Regions from separate parts of the Homo sapiens genome. Here region 1 is linked to region 2. Evidence: fine-mapped expression QTL. A gene starts in region 2. The other region holds a variant in brackets. All regions are shown on one strand. Distances are between the middles of the regions. Region 1 overlaps SNX8 (sorting nexin 8). Region 2 holds the start of SNX8 (sorting nexin 8).

Evidence for each region. PIP is the estimated chance that this variant, and not a neighbour inherited with it, causes the effect.
Region 1: its variant is fine-mapped to the expression of SNX8 in lung (TOPMed, PIP above 0.99).

The regions. Positions count from the first base shown.
Region 1 is chr7:2,263,740-2,271,827 of GRCh38, reverse strand. SNX8 (sorting nexin 8) reads left to right here. Exons shown (of 11, transcript NM_013321.4): 5 at 2,189-2,269; 6 at 7,370-7,530. Among named protein-coding and RNA genes, the nearest start is that of MIR6836, 10 kb to the right of the region's middle. RefSeq lists enhancers at 1-551, 1,161-1,771. The variant C/T (reference allele first, on the strand shown) is at 4,617.
Region 2 is chr7:2,309,768-2,317,855 of GRCh38, reverse strand. It overlaps SNX8 (sorting nexin 8), which reads left to right and starts at 3,415. Exons shown (of 11, transcript NM_013321.4): 1 at 3,415-3,528. The coding sequence starts at 3,435. RefSeq lists enhancers at 2,310-2,810, 2,811-3,311, 5,056-5,185, 5,226-5,305, 5,506-5,675 and 4 more and silencers at 3,130-3,399, 3,500-3,739.

The sequences.
Region 1 (8,088 bases), 46 kb after region 2:
TGTCCCGGCCCCGGGGAGTCCCCGAGCCTCCGGACCCGCCTTTTCCTCTCTCAGGTGTGGTTTCTTATCCTCCTGGTCCCTTGTTTGGACGCCCAGCAGGAATGACATGGACAAGACTTCTTTCCTTTCCAGATAACAGTCTGAATGTGATTTTCAGAGGTGTCCCTGGTGTTGACTTTGCAGGATTTTGTAAATCCGCGTGGAGATCATGGATCTCTGTGGTCACTTTGAGGATTTAGGCTGGATGGTTTGGAGGGTTTAGGGAGGTGCCAGAGACTCCAGATGGGAAGAAGTGTTGACTTAAAACAAGGCCCTGTCTGACTAAGGACCACTGGAACACAGGCTGAGCCTCCTTGTCAGAGCCACAGCCCACACCTGCATCCGGGAATTAACTTGTTGTACATGCACTCCGTCAGAGGTCTGAGTGGGGCTTCCCTCCTCCCAGCTGCTGCGGCACAGCCTTATTGTGTGTCAAGAAGCTACAGTTCGCAGGTACAGTGGCCCACGCCTCTAATCCCAGCGCTCGGAGAGGCCGAGGCTGGATGGTCCCTTAAGCCCAGGCGTTTGAGACCAGCCTGGACAACATAGCGAGACTTCGTCTCTACCAAAACAAAACTGAGGCCAGGCATGGTGGTGCACACCTGTAATCCCAGTCACTTGGGAGGCTGAGGCATGAGAATCGCTTGAACCCAGGAGGTGGAGCTTGCAGTGAGCTGTGATTGTGCCACTGCACTCCAGCCTGGGCGACAGAGTGAGACCCTGTCTCAAAAAAACAAAAAACAACCCTGCAGCCCAGCTCCTGTTTCCTGGAGGAGGAAGCAGCTGCCAGCCCCTCCAGGGAAGGCGGGTCCTGTGCTTCTCCTCCACCTGTGCCTGCAGGACCCTCTCCCTGTGCGGGGAGGGGCGGGGGCTCCACTGGAATAGAGGTTTCCAGGCTCTCCTCTATTTCAGGGAAACCCCGTCTTGAATGGGGACCTGACGGCCTCTGTCCTTGTCCCTGCTGCAGGAAGACACCCCCTCTCCCAGGCTGACTTCACACAAGCCTTGGTTCCTTTTGTCTTCGTTCCTCTCGGAGGCAGAGGGGCCTTCCCCCTGTGCCTGAGATGTCCCTGGGATGCCCCCGGGGATGTCTGGAGCAGGCAGTGGGATCTTTTGAGCCCTGGGGTTGGAAACCTTCCTTTGGAGGCGATCTGCATTGCCAGCAGAGGAATGTGGCAGGACCTGGGAGGGGCGGTGGGCAGGGGTGCAGTGGGTCACAGGTGGGCAATATCCCTGTTCTGGGGGCAGGACGTTCCCTGTGGCCTTCCCACAGGTATCATTCTCTGTCACTTCCCGGCCTCAGTTTTCTTGCTTGCTTTCTGTTTTTAGAGATGGGGTCTCACTATGTTACCCAGGCTGGCCCTGAACCCCTGGGCTCCAGCGATCCTCCCGCCTCAGGCTCTGAGTAGCTGGGACTACAGGCACGCACCATGCTGGGCCTCAGGTCTTTTTTTTTTTTTTTTTTTTTTTTTTTGTAAAATGAGAGTTGAGTCAGATGATCTTTAAGGCATCTCTGAAACCTGAGAATTCCTGGACACGCAAACAGCTGCATATTAGGGTTTCCCCTTGTATCTCCTGGGTGGCTCCTGACTTTAAGGCACGGCTTTGCCCAGGAGGCCTCTTTCAGATGAGAGGGCTCCGGTGCCAGGGGCTGGGCCTGTCCCTCTGCCCAGCAGCTCCCTGGGCTCTGGTGTCCCTGGCGCCATGGATGCATTCCCAGGAAGGAAGACACTTTTGCCCTGTTCTATTGCGTTTTTGGAAGCTACCAGGGTCTCAGGTATCTCTGGGGCTGACGCCGCCCCGGGTCTGTGGATGGAGGGGCCGTTTCTCTGCAGAGCCGCCCCTGGTCTGTGGATGGAGTGGCTGTTTCTCTGGAGAGCTGCCCCCCGTCTGCGGATGGAGTGGCTGTGCCTCTGGAGAGAGGCTGCAGGTTTGTGGTGCTCCTGCTGTGAAGCCAGGCTGTCCTGTTTGGTGAGAAAAACATCTAAGGGAGAGTCAAGAGATTGCAGAATACTAATGTCAAAGCCAACATATGGAAATGTGTTTCTCCTGAGGAAAGACGACCTCCCGCTCCACAGTGACCCATACCCCACAGCAGCTTTCTTGCTGCTAGTAGAAGAGGGTGAAGCTGTGTGTTTTCCTTTTGCAGGATGTGCAGAACAAGTTAAAGGAGTCAGCACAGTGCGTCGGGGACGAATTCCTGAACTGTAAGCTGGCTACCAGGGCCAAGGTATTTTTCTTTTTTTTTTCTTTTTTTTTTTTTTTAATTTATTTTTTTATTGATCATTCTTGGGTGTTTCTCGCAGAGGGGGATTTGGCAGGGTCATGGGACAATAGTGGAGGGAAGGTCAGCAGATAAACAAGTGAACAAAGGTCTCTGGTTTTCCTAGGCAGAGGACCCTGCGGCCTTCCGCAGTGTTTGTGTCCCTGATTACTTGAGATTAGGGAGTGGTGATGACTCTTAACGAGCATGCTGCCTTCAAGCATCTGTTTAACAAAGCACATCCTGCACCGCCCTTAATCCATTTAACCCTGAGTGGACACAGCACAGGGTTGGGGGTAAGGTCACAGATCAACAGGATCCCAAGGCAGAGGAATTTTTCTTAGTACAGAACAAAATGAAAAGTCTCCCATGTCTACTTCTTTCTACACAGACACGGCAACCATCCGATTTCTCAATCTTTTCCCCACCTTTCCCGCCTTTCTATTCCACAAAGCCGCCATTGTCATCCTGGCCCGTTCTCAATGAGCTGTTGGGCACACCTCCCAGACGGGGTGGTGGCCGGGCAGAGGGGCTCCTCACTTCCCAGTAGGGGTGGCCGGGCAGAGGCGCCCCTCACCTCCCGGACGGGGCGGCTGGCCAGGCAGGGGGGCTGACCCCCCCCCACCTCCCTCCCGGACGGGGCGGCTGGCCGGGCGGGGGGCTGACCCCCCCACCTCCCTCCCGGACGGGGCGGCTGGCCGGGCAGAGGGCCTCCTCACTTCCCAGTAGGGGCGGCCGGGCAGAGGCGCCCCTCACCTCCCGGACGGGGCGGCTGGCCGGGCTGGGGGGCTGACCCCCCCCACCTCCCTCCCGGACGGGGCGGCTGGCTGGGCAGAGGGGCTCCTCACTTCCCAGTAGGGGCGGCCGGGCAGAGGCGCCCCTCACCTCCCAGACGGGGCGGCTGGCTGGGCGGAGGGCTGACCCCCCCACCTCCCTCCCGGACAGGGCGGCTGGCCAGGCGGGGGGCTGACCCCCCCACCTCCCTCCCGGATGGCACGGCTGGCCGGGCGGGGGGGCTGACCCCCCACCTCCCTCCCGGATGGGGCGGCTGGCCGGGCGGGGGGCTGACCCCCCCCACCTCCCTCCCGGATGGGGTGGCTGCCGGGCGGAGACGCTCCTCACTTCCCAGATGGGGTGGCTGCCGGGCGGAGAGGCTCCTCACTTCTCAGACAGGGCAGCTGCCGGGCGGAGGGGCTCCTCACTTCTCAGACGGGGTGGTTGCCAGGCAGAGGGTCTCCTCACTTCTCAGACGGGGCGGCCGGGCAGAGACGCTCCTCACCTCCCAGACGGGGTCTCGCCGGGCAGAGGCGCTCCTCACATCCCAGATGGGGCGGCTGGCCGGGCGGAGGGCTGACGCCCCCCACCTCCCTCCCGGATGGGGCGGCTGGCCAGGCGGGGGGCTGACCCCCCCACCTCCCTCCCGGACGGGGCGGCTGGCCAGGTGGTGGGGCTGACCCCCCCATCTCCCTCCCGGACGGGGTGGCTGGCCGGGCAGAGACGCTCCTCACCTCCCAGACGGGGTCTCGGCCGGGCAGAGGCGCTCCTCACATCCCAGATGGGGCGGCGGGGCAGAGGCGCTCCCCACATCTCAGACTATGGGCGGCCGGGCAGAGACGCTCCTCACTTCCTAGATGTGATGGCGGCTGGGAAGAGGCGCTCCTCACTTCCTAGATGGGATGGCGGCCGGGCGGAGACGCTCCTCACTTTCCAGACTGGGCAGCCAGGCAGAGGGGCTCCTCACATCCCAGACGATGGGCGGCCAGGCAGAGACACTCCTCACTTCCCAGACGGGGTGGCGGCCGGGCAGAGGCTGCAGTCTCGGCACTTTGGGAGGCCAAGGCAGGCGGCTGGGAGGTGTAGGTTGTAGTGAGCCGAGATCACGTCACTGCACTCCAGCCTGGGCACCATTGAGCACTGAGTGAACGAGACTCCGTCTGCAATCCCGGCACCTCGGGAGGCCGAGGTTGGCGGATCACTCGCGGTTAGGGGCTGGAGACCGGCCCGGCCAACACAGCGAAACCCCGTCTCCACCAAAACCAGTCAGGCGTGGCGGCGCGTGCCTGCAATCGCAGGCATTCGGCAGACTGAGGCAGGAGAATCAGGCAGGGAGGTTGCAGTGAGCCGAGATGGCAGCAGTACAGTCCAGCTTCGGCTCCGCATGAGAGGGAGACTGTGGGGTGAGGGAGAGGGAGAGGGGGAGGGGGAGGGGGAGGGGGAGGGAGAGGGCCAAGGTATTTTTCTAACTTTGAAGAGTACATCCCTTTTTAACCAGAGAAACAAGTTTTAACCCTTCAAAGTGATTTTGCCTCCTCTG[C/T]GTGGCAGGGATTATGCTGACATCTGTCGCATGGTTTCCTCATTTAACCCTCGTTTCAGTTGCTCCGACACAGGGCTGGGAGGCCTGTTTTACGGATGGAGAAACAGGCTCAGGGAGGCTGTCATTTGCCAAGGCCCCGAGCCTCTAAGCAGCAGGGCCGGGTTGCGGCTGAGCTCTGCCCTCAGGCCCTCCAGGCACCTCGTGCCCTCTGCCCTTTTCTGTGACTCAGACAGACGGATGCTTGTGTCAGCACCTTTTCAGATTTCTGGGGATTCATTGTTACATTTGTTTATTATTAAATGTTTAAAGTTTGGTCTTTTTCCAAAAAAGACTAAGGTAGCTACTTGGTAGTTTTTTTGTTTTTGGTTTTTTCTTTTTAAACCTCTTCTTCAGGCTGGCGCGGTGGCTCCTTCCTGTAATCCCAGCACTTTGGGAGGCTGAGGCTGTCGGATCACTTGAGGTCAGGAGTTTGAGACCAGCCTGGCCAACATAGCAAAACCCCATCTCTAATAAAAATACAAAACAAAAAAGGAAAACAAAAAAAAGCAAAACAAACCCCAAAAAACCGGCCGGGCGTGGTGGCTTACGCCTGTAATCCTAGCACTTTGGGAGGCCGAGGCGGGTGGATCACGAGGTCAGGAGTTCAAGACTAGCCTGACTAACATGGTGAAACCCCGCCTCTACTAAAAATACAAAAATTAGCTGGGTGCGGTGGCGTGCACCTGTAATTCCAGCTACTCAGGAGGCTGAGGCAGGAGAATTGCTTGAACCTAGGAGGAAGAGGTTGGAGTGAGCCAAGATTGCGCCACTGCACTCCAGCCTGGACGACAGAGACACCATCAAAAAAAAGAAAAAAAAAATTAGCCAGGCTTGGTGGCAGGCACCTGTAATCCCAGCTATTTGGGAGGCTGAGGCAAGAGGACTGCTTGAACCCAGGAGGCAGAGGCTGCAGTGAGCCCAGGTCGTGCCATTGCACTCCAGCCTGGGTAACAGAGTGAGACTTTGTGTCAAAGACGACAACAACAACAACAAAAAAACCAGAAAAAAACCTGCTTCTTCATACAAAAATTAAAAATCTATTTTATTTTATTTTTTGAGACAAGGTCTTGCTCTGTCCTCTAGGCTATAGTGCAGTGGTGCAATCGTAGGTCATTGCAGCCTCGACCTCCTGAGTTCAAGCAATTCTCCCACTTCAGCCTCCCAGAATAGCTGGGACCACAGGCATGCACCACAGTACTTGGCTGATTTGTTTGTTTGTTTTTGGTATAGATGAAGTCTCACTATGTTGCCCAGGCTGGTCTTGAACTCTTGGCCTCAAGCAATCCTCCTGGCATGGCCCCCCAAAGTACTGGGATTAAAGGCATGAGCCACCATGCCTGGCCAAATCTTTTACCTTCATTTTACTCTCTGAGCTTTCTGTTTTCTGAACTCTGATAGTTAGTATCAAATCTTATAAAAAGTCTTTGGGAATAAACGCGGCATAGAAGAGGCCTTCCCCCCATGTGGAGAGTCTTTCAGGAATTTATGTTCATTGTGTTTAACTTGAAGATTGTTTGTTTTTATTTTTGTTGTTTTCTGGGGACAGGGTCCCCAGGCTGGAGTGCAGTGTTGTGATCATGGCTCCTTGCAGCATGGAACTCCTGGGCTCAAGTGATCCTCCTGCCTCAGCCCTCTGTAAGCACCTGGGACCACAGGCGCTCCACCACGCCTGGCTAATTTTTTGATTTTTTGGGAGAGATGGGGTTTCACTATGTTGCCCAGGCTGTTCTTAAACTCCCAGGCTCTAGCAATCCTCTTGCCTCAGTCTCCCAGAGCGCTGGGGTACAGGTGTGAGTCACTGTATCCAGCTAAAGATTAGTATTGTTAGTTTTTGAGACGGAGTCTCGCTCTGTTGCCCAGGCTGGGGTGCAGTGGTGTGATCGCAGCTCACTGCAAGCTCCGCCTCCGGGGTTCATGCCATTCTCCTGCCTCAGCCTCCCAAGTAGCTGGGACTAGGTGCCCACCACCAGGCTCGGCTAATTTTTTGTATTTTTAGTAGAGATGGGGTTTCACCATAGTCTCGATCTCCTTACCTCGTGATTCGCCCTACTCGGCCTCCCAAAGTGCTGGGATTACAGGCGTGAGCCACTGCGCCCGGCAAGATTATTATTCGAGTGTTTTGTTGGTTTGTTTGTTTTGAGACAGAGTCTCGTTCTGTCGCCCAAACTGGAGTGTGGTTGCGCGATCTCAGCTCACTGCAACCTCTGCCTCCCGGATTCAAGCAATTCTCCTGTCTCAGCCTCTGGAGTAGCTGGGATTACAGGTGCATGCCGCCATGCCCAGCTAATTTTTGTATTTTTAGTGGAGATGGGGTTTCACCATATTGGTCAGGCTGGTCTTGAACTCCTGACCTGAGGTGATCCACCTGCCTCAGCCTCCAAAGTGCTGGGATTACAGGTGTGAGTGACTGCCCCTGGCCTTATTTGAGTGTTTTTGGATAGGTCCTCCAGTGTGATGAGATTTCAGTGGACTCTGTGGTCCTCATCCCATGGGATCATTTGTCTTTGTGTTTGTGGCATGCAGGTGATGATGGTTTTTGTTTCTTTTTTGGACACACAGAGTGATCCCTGCAGGCCTGGAGGAGTGGGGCTCCCGGGGTGGCTCATGGACCTGCTGTGTCTCCCGTGGCTCAGCTTCTGGGGGACCGGCTGCTGCCGTCTGACAGGTGCTCCCCAGCGACTAACACAGTGTCTCTCCCCCCATCATGATGTCAGGACTTCCTCCCAGCTGACATCCAGGCTCAGTTTGCCATCAGCCGGGAGCTGATCCGGAACATCTACAATAGCTTTCACAAGCTTCGCGACAGGGCCGAGCGGATCGCATCGCGGGCCATCGACAATGCGGCAGATCTTCTCATATTCGGGAAGGAGCTAAGGTAGGTGACCTTTCAGCTTCTGCAGGGGCACGCGCGGTGGGACGGGAATCCATGCTGGTGAAGGGCTTGGGCGGAAAGTGCGTTTACCGTAATAACCAGCATCCTGACCTGTTTCATCTCAGAAGGGGCAGAAAGTGGCTCAGGCACATGGGGGGTCATATTTGGAAGAAACACGGGAGAATTTCGGCCCTGAAACACGGATTTCTGAGCACGAGTAAATGCTCACCAGTTTCTAGTCTGGTAGTTTTTTCACTGTCAGGATGAGACTTTAAAAAAAGATCCCAGGCCAGGCGTGGTGGCTCACACCTGTAATCCCAGCACTTTGGGAGGCCGAGGTGGGTGGATCACGAGGTCAGGAGTTCAAGATCAGCCTGGCCAAGATGGTGAAACCCGTCTCTACTAAAAATACAAAAAAAAGTTCTCTGGGCGTGGTGGCGGGTGCCTGTCATCTCAGCTACTCGGGAGGCTGAGGCAGAGAATTGCTTGAACCTAGGAGGCGGAGGTTGCAGTGAGCCGAGATCGCGCCACTGCACTCCAGCCTGGGTGATACAGCGAGAC
Region 2 (8,088 bases):
CATCTCGATCTCGGCTCACTGCAACCTTGGCCTCCCAGGTTATGGTGGAGAGAGCATCAATGGTGTGCCTGCTTGCATGGAGGTCCTGGTGTGCGGGGACCCTATGGCGTCCTAGGTGCAGTCATCTGTTACCGAGGCAGGGTCCAGCAGCTATAGCCAGAGGAAGTAACTACCTTGTGAGAAGGGGACGCTTCCTAGGAACTGACATGGTTCTGGGCTCTTGGTTCTGTAATCAACTCCCCGGACATTGTGTGACATCAGCGTTAGAAGGTCCAGGATGGCCGGGCACGGTGGCTCACACCTGTAATCCCAGCACTTTGGAAGGCCAAGGTGGGCGGATCACTTGAGGTCAGGAGTTCGAGACCAGCCTGGCCAACATGGTGAAAACCCATCTCTACAAAAATACAAAAATTAGCTGGGTGTGGTGGCACACGCCTGTAATACCAGCTACACGGGAGGCTGAGACAGGAGAATCGCTTGACCTGGGAGGCGGAGGTTGCAGTGAGCCAAGATCATGCCACTGCCCTCCGCTCCAGGCAACAGAGTGAGACTCTGTCTCAAAAAAAAAAAAAAAAAAAAAAAAAAAAAAAAAAAAAAAAAAAAAGAAGGTCCAGGATCCTTCCTTTGGAAACAAGCCCTTCCTGATGCAGGCCTACCAATCTCCATGCCAAACCCCACACTTTTAGCCTGGAATGACCACAGCATCTGCAGCTGATGTCTCAGAGCCTTCGTGCCCTCCTCCTACTTAACTCCTTATTCCTCCAGCCCTAACTCTGGTACCACCCATCCAGGGATCCCTTCACCCATGTAGGGAAGGGATCGCCCTTCACCCTTCACCCTCTTCTGCGGTGTGTTGCACAGCCTTGCTCCCGTTTTGGAACAGTTAGCACACTTGCTCCACTCTGGCCATCTGTGCCTCCTCCAGATCAAGGAATGCACAGGAAACATCTTTGTATTCTCAGCACCCAGCACAGGGCTTCCTGACCTCCTGGTGGCAGCCAGCAAACCTGAGTGGGCCAGTGGGTGGGTGGATAGATGCAGGATGCAGTGAGTGAGTGAGTGAGTGGGTGGGTGGATGAATGCAGGATGCAGTGAGTGAGTGGGTGGGTGAATGAATGAATGCAGGATGCAGTGAGTGAGTGAGTGGTTGCATGAATGAATGCATGATGCAGTGACTCAGTGAGTGGGTGAATGAATGAATGCAGGATGCAGTGAGTGAGTGGTTGTGTGAATGAATGCAGGATGCAGTGCGTGAGTGAGTGGGTGAATGAATGAATGAATGCAGGATGCAGTGAGTGAGTGGTTGTGTGAATGAATGCAGGATGCAGTGCGTGAGTGAGTGAGTGGGTGAATGAATGAATGCAGGATGCAGTGAGTGAGTGAGTGGGTGAATGAATGCAGGATGCAGTGAGTAAGTGGGTGAATGAATGCAGGATGCAGTGAGTGAGTGGTTGCGTGAATGAATGCAGGATGCAGTGCATGAGTGAGTGAGTGAGTGAATGAATGAATGCAGGATGCAGTGAGTGGGTGGGTGAATGAATGCAGGATGCAGTGAGTGAGTGAGTGAGTGGTTGTGTGAATGAATTCAGGATGCAGAGTGAGTGAGTGGGTGAATGAATGAATGCAGGATGCAGTGAGTGAGTGGGTGGGTGAGTGAATGCAGGATGCAGTGAGTGAGTGGGTGAATGAATGCAGGGTGCAGTGAGTGAGTGGTTGCGTGAATGAAAGCAGGATGCAGTGAGTGAGTGAGTGGGTGAATGAATGCAGGATGAAGTGCATGAGTGAGTGGGTGGGTAGATGAATGAATGCAGGATGCAGTGAGTGGGTGAGTGAGTGGGTGAATGAATGCAGGATGCAGTGAGTGTGGGTGAATGAATGTATGAAGAAGCAGTGAGTGAGTGAGTGGATGAATGAATGCAGGATGCAGTGAGTGAGTGAGTGGGTGGATGAATGAATGCAGGATGCAGTTAGTGAGTGAGTGAATGAATGCAGGATGCAGTTAGTGAGTGAGTGAATGAATGCAGGATGCAGTAAGTGAGTGAGTGGGTGAATGAATGAATGCAGGATGCAGTGAGTGAATGAATGAATGTAGGATGCAGTAAGTGAGTGAGTGGGTGAATGAATGAATGCAGGATGCAGTGAGTGAGTGACTGAATGAATGCAGAATGCAGTGAGTGGGTTGGTGAATGAATGAATGCAGGATGCAGTGCGTGAGTGGGTGAATGAATGTACGAAGAAGCAGTAAGTGAGTGAGTGAGTGAATGGATGAATGAATGCAGGATGCAGTGCATGAGTGAGTGGGTGGATGAATGAATGCAGGATGCAGTGAGTGAGTGGGTGAATGAACGTATGAAGAAGCAGTAAGTGAGTGAGTGAGTGAATGGATGAATGAATGCAGGATGCAGTGCATGAGTGAGTGGGTGGATGAATGAATGCAGGATGCAGTGAGTGAGTGGGTGAGTGGGTGAATGAATGCAGGATGCAATAAGTGAGTGAATGAGTGAATGCAGGATGCAGAGAGTGAGTGGGTGAGTGGGTGAATGAATGAATGCAGGATGCAGTGAGTGAGTGGGTGAGTGGGTGAATGAATGCAGGATGCAGTGCGTGAGTGGGTGAATGAATGAATGCAGGATGCAGTGAGTGAGTGGGTGAATGAATGAATGCAGGATGCAGTGAGTGAGTGGCTGGATGAATGAATGCAGGATGCAGTGAGTGAGTGGCTGGATGAATGCAGGATGCGGTGAGTGTGTGAGTGGATGAATGAATGTAGGATGCAGTGAGTGAGTGGGTGAATGAATGAATGCAGGATGCAGTGAGTGAGTGGGTGAATGAATGAATGCAGGATGCAGTGAGTGAGTGGGTGAATGATTGCAGGATGCAGTGAGTGAGTGAGTGGCTGGATGAATGCAGGATGCGGTGAGTGAGTGTGTGAGTGGATGAATGAATGTAGGATGCAGTGAGTGAGTGGGTGAATGAATGAATGCAGGATGCAGTGCGTGGGTGAGCGAATGAGTGGGTGAGTGGATGAATGAGGAAGTGCGAGTCAGAAAACCCCAGTGTAACCGGTGAATGAGCGAACAAGGGCGTGACTGGGCGAGGAGAGATGGGAGTGAATGAGGGTGCGGTGGGTGCAGGCTTGCGCCTGAGGTAGTGCACCTGCGAGTCCGGAGGTCCAACCTGAGGGGAGGTAACCTGCGCCACCAGCAGGCTCCGTGTCCACGTGGACGGGGAGGGGCATGTGGGCGTGGCTAGGCGGGTTGTAGGCGTGGCGAGGCCGGGCGAGGAGCGCGGCGGGCCCGCAGGGGCGGACTGTGGGCGTGGCGCGCGGGGGAGGGGGCGTGACCAGGCGGGGTGTGGGCGGGGCGAGGGCGCGGCGCGGCAGGGCTGCGCGGCCGGGTGGCGCGGGAGGAAGTCACGTGGGAGCGCGGGCTCACATGACTGGCCGCGCGATGGACCCGCTGCCCGCGGCTGCAGTCGGGGCGGCAGCTGAGGCGGAGGCTGACGAGGAGGCGGATCCCCCGGCGTCAGGTAGGGCGTGGGGCGGCGGTAGCCCCCACCTGCCCAGGGCGCGCGGCCCGACCACCCCCGGCGGACGGGGCTCAGCCGCCGCGCTTGGTCCCCGACTCGTTTCCTGCCCCCGCGCCCCGCGTTCGGCCCCACGCCCCAGTCCCTCGGAGGTCCCCCTGCCCTCCTGCGCGCCTGTCCTTTGGGGGTCCCCGTGCTCTCTCGCGCCTCCGTCCCTCGGGGTCCCCTGCCCTCCTGCGCCGGGAGAGCCCTGTCCAGGTTACAGCTGGCCGCGTTCCGAGGCGCTTTCCCGGGGCTCTCAGAGGCGTCCTCGGGGACAGTTTCCTCCTCGCCCCGTTCCTGGTGCCCTGCTCTTCTGCCCTGCCTGGTCACGCTGAGCGATGGCACTGGGGGCCACTTCCCCGGACTTGGGCGCCTTTCCTAGCCACATCCTCTCTCCCAAGCTCCTGTCGGTTGTGTGGTCTTGGGCCAGTAATTTCACCTCTCGGGACCTCTGTTTTCTCATCTGTGAACCGAATCTATAGATGTGTAGCTGCTTTTCTCTCTCTTTCAAGTGATCCTCCGCCTTAGCCTCCCAAAGTGCTGGGACTACGGGCGCGTGCAGTTACGCCCGGTAATTTTTTTTATTTTTGTAGAGATGGGATCTTGCTATGTTGTCCAGGCTGGTCTGGAGCTTCTGGCCTCAAGCGGTCCTCCTGCCTTGGCCTCCCAAAGTGCTGGGAGTACGGGCATGAGCCATCGTGCCTGGCCTGTATTTCTGTCTTTTTCTTTTTTCTTTTTCTTTTCTTTTCTTTTTTTTTTTTTTTTGAGACAGATTCTCACTGTCACTCAGGCTGGAGTGCAATGGTGCGATCTCGGCTCATTGCAACCTCCGCCTCCCGGGTTCAAGCGATTCTCCTGCCTCAGCCTCCTGAGTAGCTGGGATTACAGGCATCCACCATGACACTCGGCTAAATTTTGTATTTTTAGTAGAGACGGAGTTTCACCATGTTGGCCAGGCTGGTCTCGAACTCCTGACCTCAGGTGATCCAACCACCTCAGCTTCCCAGAGTGCTGGGATTACAGGCGTGAGCCACCGCGCCTGGCCTCTTGTATTTCTCTTTAAGGGATTTGGGTTAATGAGGCTAAACATGGCTGGGCACGGTGGCTCACGCTTGTAATCTCAGCACTTTGGGAGGCCGAGGCGGGCGGATCACGAGGTCAGGAGATCAAGACCATCCTGGCTAACACGGTGAAACCCTGTCTCTACTAAAAATACAAAAAAAATTAGCCAGGCGCGGTGGCGGGCGCCTGTAGTCCCAGCTACTCGGGAGGCTGAGGCAGGAGAATGGCGTGAACCCGGGAGGCAGAGCTTGTAGTGAGCCGAGATAGCGCCACTGCACTCCAGCCTGGGCGACAGAGCGAGACTCCGCCTCAAAAAAAACAAAACAAAACAAAACAAACGAGGCTAAACATTAGAAGGAATACAGGAGGGTGCCCCTTATTTCTGGATGTTCCTTCCTGTGGTCCTAGCTGCCAGAGAAGAGATGTAGGTGGGTGTTGGTGTGAGTTACGGTTTCTTCTTGGTGGGGGGGGACAAGATTGGGGAATCCCCTTGTGGGGAGGTCTGGCAAGGTGTCGCTGAGGAGGTGATGACTGAAGTGAGCTCTGGAGGGTTGGTAGACAGTTTCTTCGTCGGCGAGAAACGGCAGCGGGGAGCAGGGGAGGGATTGTTGCATTTGGTGGGCATCCTCGATGTGAAGACTGTGTCTAGAAAGAAGGGCCTTTCAGAATGGGTCTTCAGTTATTTTTTCCTTTCCCTTGTATCAGTGTAAGGGGAGGCACGTGATAGTTCTCGCTGATTAGAACATTGTGTCCATGAAGTCACATGTTGGAGGCCAGCGTGAGTCTCAGGCGGGACCCTTTCCGAGGGGTCACTTGGGAACAGGTAGGCTGTGATTGGATCGGAATGCTGCTGCTATCTCAGCTTGTAAAGCAATTTGGCATTGCTGGAGGGGTCCTCTGCAGGTGTAGGGGACTGTGTTTCCTTCAGGCTTCACAGAAGTAGACTCCAGAGGCTACCATAATGGTGTAATTTAGAGATAGTCTGAGCGCTGTACACCTGAGGGAGCTGTGTCTCTGGGAGACCGCCCTCCCTTTGGTGTGGCCTGGAATTCCTGTAGGTAGTTGGCTTTTTCTGGGGGCAGTGGTGATTTCATCAGGAGTGCTGATGGGATCCACAGATGGGGGTTGCTGGGACAAGGCAGTGCTTCACAGTGCCCTTTCCTGTAACCAGGCAAGTCTGAAAGTGGGGCTCACAGACTCTTGGGACGTAGACTGTCCTTCTGTTTGAAACTTGGTCGTCATCCTGGCAGGTGGGTGAAGTGGTATAGCAGGTCTTTTTTTTTTTTTCTTGAGACGGAGTCTCGCTCTGTCGCCCAGGCTGGAGTGCAGTGGTGTGATCTCGGCTCACTGCAAGCTCTGCCTCCCGGGTTCATGCCATTCTCCTGCCTCAGCCTCCCGAGTAGCTGGGACTACAGGCGCCCGCCACCACGCCCGGCTAATTTTTTGTATTTTTAGTAGAGACGGGGTTTCACCATGTTAGCCAGGATGGTCTCGATCTCCTGACCTCGTGATCTAGCCGCCTCGGCCTCCCAAAGTGCTGGGATTACAGGCGTGAGCCACCGCGCCCGGCCTCGCAGGTCTTTTTACATTGAGAAAACTAAAATCCAGAGGTAAGTAATTTGCCCAAAGTGGGCAATGTCAAGGGAATGTGTGTTGATGGGGACCCTGATTGGGTGGGCTGGAGTGAGAAAACCTCAGCCTTGAGACCAAGCACTGTGGCTCACGTCTGAAATCACAGCACTTGGGGAGGCTGAGGAGGGAGGATCGCCCGAGCCCAGGCGCTAGAGACCAGCCTGGACAACGTAGCGAAATCCTGTCTCAAATTTTTAAAAAAGAAAACAAAAACAAAAACAGCAAAGAAAAAAGTTAAGTCTCTGAATATTGTCCGGAGACTATGTGTGTGACTTACACGTTCACTAAGGTTGGTTTGAAGGAGTGGTTGTGCCTTACGGGTATACAGTGAATTTCCTCTTCTCTAGAGTTTTGGCCACACAGCCAGAGCCCACTGGTGGTATTCATGTGGGAACTGTGAAATCTCCTGCATCTTCGGTGTTGCCAGAAAAAAATGTGCTTGTTGTACTTTTCCACATTAAGAGTCTCATTCTATTTGAATTCTTTGAAGCTTAAGCTGTGAATGCTCTCTAGGGCAACCCTCTTTATAAAAACTTAATTTTCAGTTATGCCATACATGGACAAATGTATTTTCTTTAAAAAAGAATAGAACATTGTAGATTAAGTGAAAGTCCCATCCTAATTGCCATCATCTCCTGTCTGTACCTGAGAGGTGACCATTGTTCTCAGTTTGGGATGGACCGTTTTAGTTCTGTTTTCACATTTTATTCATATATGTACTCAGGAAACATATACTTCCTTATATAAGTGTGCTCATGTTTCCCTAGCGTAGTATATTCTCTAGCTTTCTTTTGTTCCTTTTATTTTTATTTATTTATTTTTTTGAGACGTAGTTTCACTCTTTTGCCCAGGCTGGAGTGCAGTGGTGCGATCTTGGCTCACTGCAAGCTCCACCTCCTGGGTTGACGCCATTCTTCTTTCTGCCTCAGCCTCCTGAGTAGCTGGGACTACAGGTGCCTGCCACCACACCTGACTAATTTTTTGTATTTTTAGTAGAGATGGCATTTCACCGTGTTAGCCAGGTTGGTCTTGATCTCCTGACCTCATGATCTGCCTGCCTCGGCCTACCAAAGTGCTGAGATTACAGGGGTGAACCACTGCGCCCAGCCACGCCTGGCCAATTTTTAAAATTTTTTGTAGAGACAGTCTGGCTGTGTTGCCCAGGCTGGTGTGGAACTCCTGGCCTCAAGCAATCCTCCCACCCGGGCCTCCCAAAGTGCTGGGATTTCAGGCATGAGGCACCGAGCCTGGCTGGATTTTATATTGAAACTATTCCTGTCAAAATATCTGATTGACCGGAACATTCTGTCCTCTGACTATGCAGGATAAGGGTTTTTTTCAGGGCCTGTTCTTAGGTCATGAAGCTCAATGATTGTGACATCCAGCGAGAACGGCAGTGAGTGTGGTAAGTGTGCTTGGTCGTCCAGCCTGATTTCTCGGGATCGATTAATACATGGATAGAAATATGTACAGATGACCACGGCGTATCCTGGCTCTGCCGTATACAGTCCTGCGGCCCTACATTGACTCTTTAGAACGAGGGTGAGTCACGCTTCACTTGCGGCTCATCCCATGGCATTCCATACATTCCATTCGGTTCGGAAGCTCCGTGCTGTTTGTCCGCGTTGACCTGGCGATGACTCCTTGAGTGTCATTGAGGCAGGTCCAGGGCCTTTGCTGACCCTCGGGGCTCCTTCACCCCTGCCCCGAGCCTTCCCCTCTTGCCTGGGCGACTTCCATGCACCCTGGGCTCCCATCAACCCTTACCTGCAGCTGCTCGCTCATGTCAGGTCTGTTCTCTGTGTGAATACGTTGGTCAGAATTCAT